2 linked regions of the Homo sapiens genome follow. The protein of the gene in region 2 interacts with the protein of the main gene of each other region in a biochemical or structural test. Each region holds a gene or a part of one and is shown on either strand. Other genes may lie near its edges.

What was found. Proteins that work in one complex are often made in the same cells at the same time.
Region 1: of the proteins of PKP4 (region 2) and PTPRC, one has a biochemical effect on the other in vitro, tested with the Homo sapiens proteins (one large-scale study listed by IntAct).

What each region holds. Positions count from the first base shown.
Region 1 is NC_000001.11:198,645,184-198,649,170, reverse strand, and holds part of PTPRC (receptor-type tyrosine-protein phosphatase C isoform 1 precursor), read right to left. Parts: intron 1-3,987. UniProt on the Homo sapiens protein: Protein tyrosine-protein phosphatase required for T-cell activation through the antigen receptor. Acts as a positive regulator of T-cell coactivation upon binding to DPP4.
Region 2 is NC_000002.12:158,624,108-158,628,094, reverse strand, and holds part of PKP4 (plakophilin-4), read right to left. Parts: intron 3,218-3,987; coding exon 2,668-3,217; intron 1-2,667. UniProt on the Homo sapiens protein: Plays a role as a regulator of Rho activity during cytokinesis. May play a role in junctional plaques.

The DNA of each region.
Region 1 (3,987 bases), on a different chromosome or scaffold from region 2:
TTTATCAAATGAACCAAACAATAATTTTTTTTTGTTTTGTTTTAGTCTCCTCAAAGTTTAGCCAACTTGTCTCTGGAATAAAAAGTGTAGGATGGATTTACCTGGTTCACTTAATATGCTTTTTGGATGACTATGAAAAGATTATCTAGTGTCTACACTTCCTGGAATAAGATGAGAACCTTATGTGTTTTCCATGATCAAAGTGTTTAACAAAGGTCAAGTTACTTCCCTTGCACTTCAAAAACAAAAAAAAATCTAGATACTTTGGTGAATTATTTAATGTTTTTCACTTTATGTAATATCAAAAATGAGTTGGGTGGGGGAAAATCCATTCTTTCCATCATATCACTCACCTCAAGACAGACTCAGTCCTGTCCTTTGTTAGCCTCCTTTTCAGGATGATTGTAACACATCACATCAGTATTCATAGTGAAGACAAATTAATCAAAGATGTCTTTTTGTTTTTTATAAAAGTCATACAATCTTATGTGAATTTTACATAGATACAGAATATGCTAAAGATATAGAAGCAGCTCAGTGCACAATGGTTCATGTAAGTAGCTAAATCAGGTGAATGAACTTACATGCATATGTCACACAAACAACCTCTGAGAAATTACCAGCTCCCATTCAGTCCTGCTGTGATTTGCCCATCATCACACAGTCATGTCTTAAATTCCAGGTTATTAAACTGACCACTAAGAAGATTGAGTAACCGAGTGGAAAATCTAGAATCTGGTCTATCTAGAATCAGATAGACCCCGATTAAGACCCCAGCCTTCACCCCACCCCCTACAACTCTCATTTGCTATTAGCTGGTGACCTTGGAAAATTAGAAAGACTACCAAAAAAAAGTAAGAATTTGTTTGTGTGCTGTGTATTTCTGTATGTTTTCCCTTTTCTCTCCACATAAACATTTTTTCAGAATAAATTACAAAACAAACAAACCAAAACAAAATAGGACTATTGTCTAGTACCTCTTCACATCTACCAACTTTATTTATTGAATATCTAATAATAATCTACACAACTCAGTGGCAGCACCAGAACTTCCATAATTTAAAAGTCTGCAAAGAAAATCTGGTTGTAACAGGGACCTGGAGGAAGTCTTGTAAGAATATAAGTTTTACTTAATATGTTATATATAGATCTTAAGATAGTGATTTTTAAATTTATAATTTATAAAACATTGATAACACCAATAATTATCTGTAGCAAGGTATGTTGTTACTTTGAGGAGGAAGTTTTGGGGTGCTGATGAAGATTTTGGAAGATTTAAAACACCATCTCCAAGAAGCCACTGATAGAAAATACGGGCTTCATGGGATAGGTGTCCTCAGCCCAAATTACATGGAAAACACTCACAAAATAGTTGTTTATCAAATGAACTAATAAGTTAATAAATAACTGAATAGATCTAGTTGTCCTAGTCAAATGAAATACTCAAAAAGTTTTTAGATCCTGAGAACTGGAAACCTGAAATTCTTATTTTTCTATTCATTTCTATATTTTTCAAATTGTCTAGAATAATCAAGGTTTACTTGGGAAAAAATTGAACATGAAATTTCATACACAGCATGTGATCAAAAGATAGAGGAAGAAAAACAAAATGTTAGCATGGGCTCTAAGCAATTTCTTTTTCCTTCTATTTCTTGACATTTTCCAAATTTTCTATTATGTAGAAATTTTTACCATAAATAATTCCCATAAATAACAATAAAAGGACAGAATCAAAATTGTTTTTAAGAATTATTAAGTGCCTTCTACATACAGAGTTGGGTTAAGCTGACAGACCATTCGTTTGTTCAGCAAACAGGTACTGAGGACCTGCAGGCACTGGCAAATAAGCAGAGACCCAGTGATAGCCTACATGAGCTCACCAGTTGCTGCAAGAGAGCCTGGTAAAGAGAACTCCAAGAGAATTATTCAAAGGATCATCACAGCAGAAGAATACCTATGCAGGTGTGAAAGGGGCTGAAGAGCAAGGGTTATACAAGTGGGATAGGGGCTGTCTAGAGGACATGATCTTTACAGTAAATTTGAATACAATTTATAATTTGCACCATTGATAAAAAGATGTGGAGAGAAGGAAAAACAGCATGGCCAACAGTAGGAAGACCAAACAAGGTCACATTTTTAGAAAAATGCAAGTTACAAAAAGAGTCACAAAGTGGTTAGAGATAAAGCCAGACAAATCTGAAGAGATTCAATTACATATGTGTGTGCAATGCTAATTGCTTTTATTTTTCCTAAATGCACAAAGACCAAAGTAGGATGATTTGACACTTTCCCCACACACTATTTTACATTGAGAAGATTTTAAACTTATCACCTTGATTCTTCTCTTTACTTTTTGCTCCAATAATGAATAAGAAATTGGTACTAAGTGTGAAAGCTAATAAGAGGAATACCATACAAATGAATGAGAATTCAAACATAATAATTCCAGGCTATCAAGCAGTCTTAAAAGTGTTTCTAAAGTTTCTATTGGCTAGATAAGAAATAATCGAAAGTCTTAAAATTTCAAAATGAATCTAGCTCAAAGAGCTGTCAATCTCCACATTAATGTCACTGATAGAAATTTCAACACAACAAAAAATTGAGAATGGTTAATATTGCCCGATTTAAGTTTGACAAAAATGAAAAATTACATAAATTATATTTTTTGTAGCATTGAGACACAAAACCAATTAAAAAAACTAAACTAGCGGTAGCCAAAACTACACACAGAAAATGTTTCTGGCCAAAGAGAAGAATTTAAATGGTTTTGGAAAATTTAGATCTGTATTGTTTGAAAAGAAGAATTACCTTTAGAAAAGTAATAATCACAAAGGAAAATTCCAAGCATAAGCTATATTCAGTAGAACTTGACATGGGTAAAATGGATTCATGAATCTAATAGTTATTGTAAAAATTAAATGAAAGTGATGCTGCTAAACATTAGTTCAGTAAAATTAAAATTAAAATGGAAAAACTGCCAAGGATTTCACTAGGTAATATATATATAATCATCAGGGAATTAAATTGGTCTAATGGAGTTTTTTTCCTCCAAAATTTATCTTTAAGGAAAACTCATAAATGTTGGTATATTCTAATTAAATATTTGTTTTCATAAAAGTTGAGCCAAAACATACTTGGTATCAAATCACGGGTTCAGTATATTTTCTACCAATAGGAGCTTTTAAAAGAGGAATGGACAAAGGTAAGTTCTGCCTTTTACAAAGATTATCCTGGTAATGGTGGGTATGGACACAGTAAGGATTGAAGGCAGGTGAGACTTCAGGATATTTTTACACTAAGAAATCCCTGGCAAAGTAGAAGTGTGTGGATTTACAAACTATTTAGACTGTAGAATCTGGAGAAGCCTGAAAAATCTCTGAAATAAAGAATGCAAAGTTAAAAGAATTCAAAGGCCTATAAGGGATTATGCCTCTATCACTTAACCTTAAACTATCCCTTTATCTGCTCACAGTGTCTGAAAGGAAGAGATATCATTTGGAATCAAGTTTATGCTAAAAGGCTATGTGCTCTGATTTCATGGGCTCACATGAAAAAATTTACTTCTCAGAGTATCACATAATTTCAAAGCATTTTCACAAATATTATAACTTTTAATGCTTACAACACTTTATAGATGAGGAAATTGGGTCTCAAGGGTGAAAATTGATTTAGCTAAAAATCACAAGATTCATAGAGTTAGATTTTCAAAATATTTATCACTACAGATGTCATGATGTTTCCCAGCTTGGAGTGGTTTCTGCCTCATTTTCTATTATGCTTAATATGTTTTATCAGTAAATTATTATATTTTTCATCAAGTGGATGTGTTTAAAATATAGTGGCCACACTGTATTGCCATGATATTTATTGTGATTTTGATATTGTCTCTTAGCATCATTGTTATTTGTATAGGTTTCTCTAAACTATCTCTTGAATGACCACAGACAAATTGTACTTTAATTTAAAATGCAGAGAATGTCTTCTTGT
Region 2 (3,987 bases):
GCAGAAGAATCGCTTGAACCCGGGAGGCGGAAGTTGCAGTGAGCCGAGAGCGTGCCACTGTACTCCAGCCTGGTGACAGAGCGAAACTCCGTCTCAAAAAAAAATAAAAAAATAAAAATAAATAAAAATAAATAAAAAATAATTTTTTCAGAAGCATTTCCACTGATTAATTTTTAATAACATTACTTCCCCTTCCAAATAATGGAAAACACTGATACGCCACTGCATTATTTATCCAACCAATACTTTCTATTTGCAATTCCACAAACATATTAGTTTAGCTATTATTACGGTGATTCCATGTGATTAAAAATATTTATATTTATGGCATTAGAAATAAACATAAATTTATCTTTCAAAGATCAATTCTTTATCTCCTCAAAAGTTTTCTTTACATGCCATGATTATTCTGAAATGAACATTTTAGAGTATATATATATATATTTCTGTAGTTTGTATCATTTAAATTATGATCATCAAATACCCAAGTCCCTGAATGTAGTACAAAACATTGCTTATCAATTAGCAGGCTATTAGTCCTTTGAAATCAAGAACACTTTGCTTCTTGAGAACACTGCAGTATTTCTAGAAAAAAATCACTGAGAGGCTGGGCCTAAAAAATAGACATTATATATATTTTCCCCCCAAGACATAAAGTCTAATTTTACCTGCATTGTCAGAGAAACAGACTGTTTAAACCAGAGGAAATGAGTCCTCTTAGGGTTAAATATGGAGACAATAATTTATATGCTGGCTTCCTTCCTCCAGTCTCCTCTCTACTCTCTTACAAGCAGAGATTTCTACATAGCTGTTCTATACACACGGGGGAATATGGAAGTCCTCAGAACTATTTATTTTCTAAGATTTCCTTGGGAGGTAGAATTTCATAAATGATTCCTACATCATTTTGCTGCATACTTTTCAGAGGCATTTCAGAAAATATCTAAGTCAAGCACACTTCTTGGATAGATGAATGAAAAAGAGGTGGTTTCTCCACTAAGAATTTCTTTGAGCTCAAAAATCAAGTTCAATATAAATTCTCCAGGCAAAATTATTCAATCACAAAAATCTCAAAAAGGCTTAAATTTTCTTAGAAGACATAAAAAAGATACTAATTTTACTATGTAAGAATGTTAAACAGTTTTGTAAATTAAAACCAAAATGAAATAAAAAGAAGTGACAAAATGGAAAAAATACTTGAGAAGCATATTACGAGGTGCTAGCTTATCTCTAGTAAAAAAAAGCTTTCACGAATTATAAAAATAGACAAAAGAACTTGTAGTTTCACAAAATGAAATAAAGTCGTTGATGAACAGATTAAATCTTCAACCTCAGTCATAACTCAATAAAAGCCCTTAAAAACAATGAGGTACAGCTTTTTACCTATCAGATTGGCAAAGATGAAAAACTTGGAATATGCAGCACTAGTGCAGTGTAGACAAGGTATAGACAAACAGGCACTCAAACTACTGGCAGAAATATAAATCCGTGTGTAACCTTCTTAGAAGGCAATTCTACGTAATATCTCTCAAAGTAAAAATACACATATATTTTGATGCAGCAATTCTACTGGATCCCAGTTACCCTAGTACTTATGTGAAATATGCAGGGAGAACAATGTATGTACTACATCATCTCTAACAGCTAAACATAACAAACAACCTAACTGTCCATTAGGAGGAAAATGCAAATAAATTATGATATATCTATAAAAAATGGGTCCCATGCATCTATTAAGAATGAGGTAGAGCTCTTAAGACATAGTTAGTGAAAAGAACAAAGTATAGAAGATCTATATGATAGAATTCCATCAATAGAAAACACAATGTGTGTGCAGATTTGCATGGATTGCATATATTTGTAAATGCAAAGAAACATTCTGAAAGCCACATCAACTGTGATGGGACTGGGTGAGGGTAAAAGGCTTTCACTTATTTCAATATTTTCCCATATAGTTTTAATTTTTACCATTCTGTATATGTTACTTTTAAAATATAATTTAAAACACTAAAGTTAAATTGCATTTTATTTAAAATAACCAAATCTTTACACCATGTAGGAAACCCTCCACGAAAAACCCTGAAGTTGGAACAGCTGTATTAGGGACCCGGTGTCTTTCTGCTTTAATAGGAGTGGCATGTAAAAGTGATTCATAAGCGCTTTGTGCATTTACCGTTAAAATGCCAAAATCAAGTAGGGGATAAAATTCATAGTCTAGTCTATATTACCAAAGCATTTCTAAAGAAAAAATTTAAACATTTAAACAGATATTCTGATACCACCTTTTAACATAACTTTAGGGTATGTTTAGGGGTAGGCCTGGCTGGTAAAAAATATTTCATTAAAAAAAATTAGTCAACTGCTTAGAATTGCAACTAATACTTATGAAATGCAAAAAAAGCACATTTTAAACCCTAATATTTAGTGGGAAAATATTACAAAAGAGTTATATCCATTGCAAAAGGATTCTATTGATATAAATGTATATAATTTCATGTATTAAGAATTACAGAACCTGAAAGACAAGTTAACCTTAAGTTTATAGTTTAAAATCTGAGATTAAAAACACGAATGAGCCTTTTCCACCTTTTCATTCTTTGTTTCAACTTAAGTTACACAGAAGATTTCCTCACTGGGTTTTATGTAGCACTGTCACCTTGTACGCACCTGTCAGGCTGTCTGGCCTGGGTGGAACCATCCTCTCATAAATGTCATACTGCTGCTGTCCGAATTGCTCCATGTCATGAACAGTCCTTTGCAGTGAAGGTCCCAGATGCTGTGGTACGGCGGTCATCCCTGAGCGTTTGGGGGACGACGACCCCACCTGGCCTTGGGATGGGGAAGCTACTCGAGTCTGTGCATCCGTCAGGGTCAGTGGGGACCCCACTCTGGCGGTGGTTTGGTATTGAGGGGTTGGTCCGTTGGGATTGGAGGTCTGCCGGGAGGTGACTGACCCAATCCGCCGTATAGCTGTTGGGGAGGCGGGTCTCTGTGAGTACGGAGAGGCTGCCCGTGCAGCAGGTAATGTGGTGGAGGAATATGCACTGGGGTTCAGAGGTCGGGGGTCGGTCACTGACGGAGAGCCAAATCCACTACCCAGAGAAGTTCTCAGAGACCCCCTTGAAGGAGACACGCCTGTGCTGATAACATAAGAAGGAGACTGTGCTCTAGATGGAACTGAACTAACTCTTCTCATGGCCCGATTGGCTACTGATGGCTGATGAAAGGGGGGGAAAAAAGAGAATGGGTTTATCCAGGGTTTTGTGTTCATTGCCATTACAAAAGAAATACACATAGCTCACTACAGAATGTGAATCCACTATTTTAGGCATCTAAGATTCTTTTCCTTTTTATGCTTTGAGCCAGACATTAATTTTTCCTCACGGTGCTTTAGTTGTTTTAGTTTTTTTTTTTTTTTTTGGTGGTTTAAACCAAATGCTAAAATTAACCTGTAAAAAGAGATCTGAAGACATTTAATACTCCTTTTTTATCTTTACATTTTTAACTATTGCCTATGCATTTTTCACAGCACATAAAATGTTTTATTCTAAGTGTTACATGTAATTCATGAGCGTGAAGGGGCACCAGAACAATGTACTTACTTCATTCCCTATGAAGCAAAGTTTGGCCAAGGCAATGCATTTATGTAAAACAAAAATTTGAATATAATTTGAATATATCAGTCTAAATGTAGCTAGTGGAATATTTATCATTGTTTTTCTTTATGGGTTGGTCCCATTAACAAAAGGAACATGTTCTTTCATTGTGGAATAAATGAACATTTGGATCAAGTGTGGGTCTGGCGCTCTCCACTGTGAATTTACTTCGGGGAACAGCTTGGCTACACAGGTGCTCTAGGCAAATTTGTTGATTCCTTTAGATCAAGCATAGCTTCTCACTTTAGCCATTTCTTTTTACCTCTTCTGATCTATGAGTTCTTAGCTTTAATTGGTGGATTTAAAGAGATGCAAAAAAAAGGCACCCCCA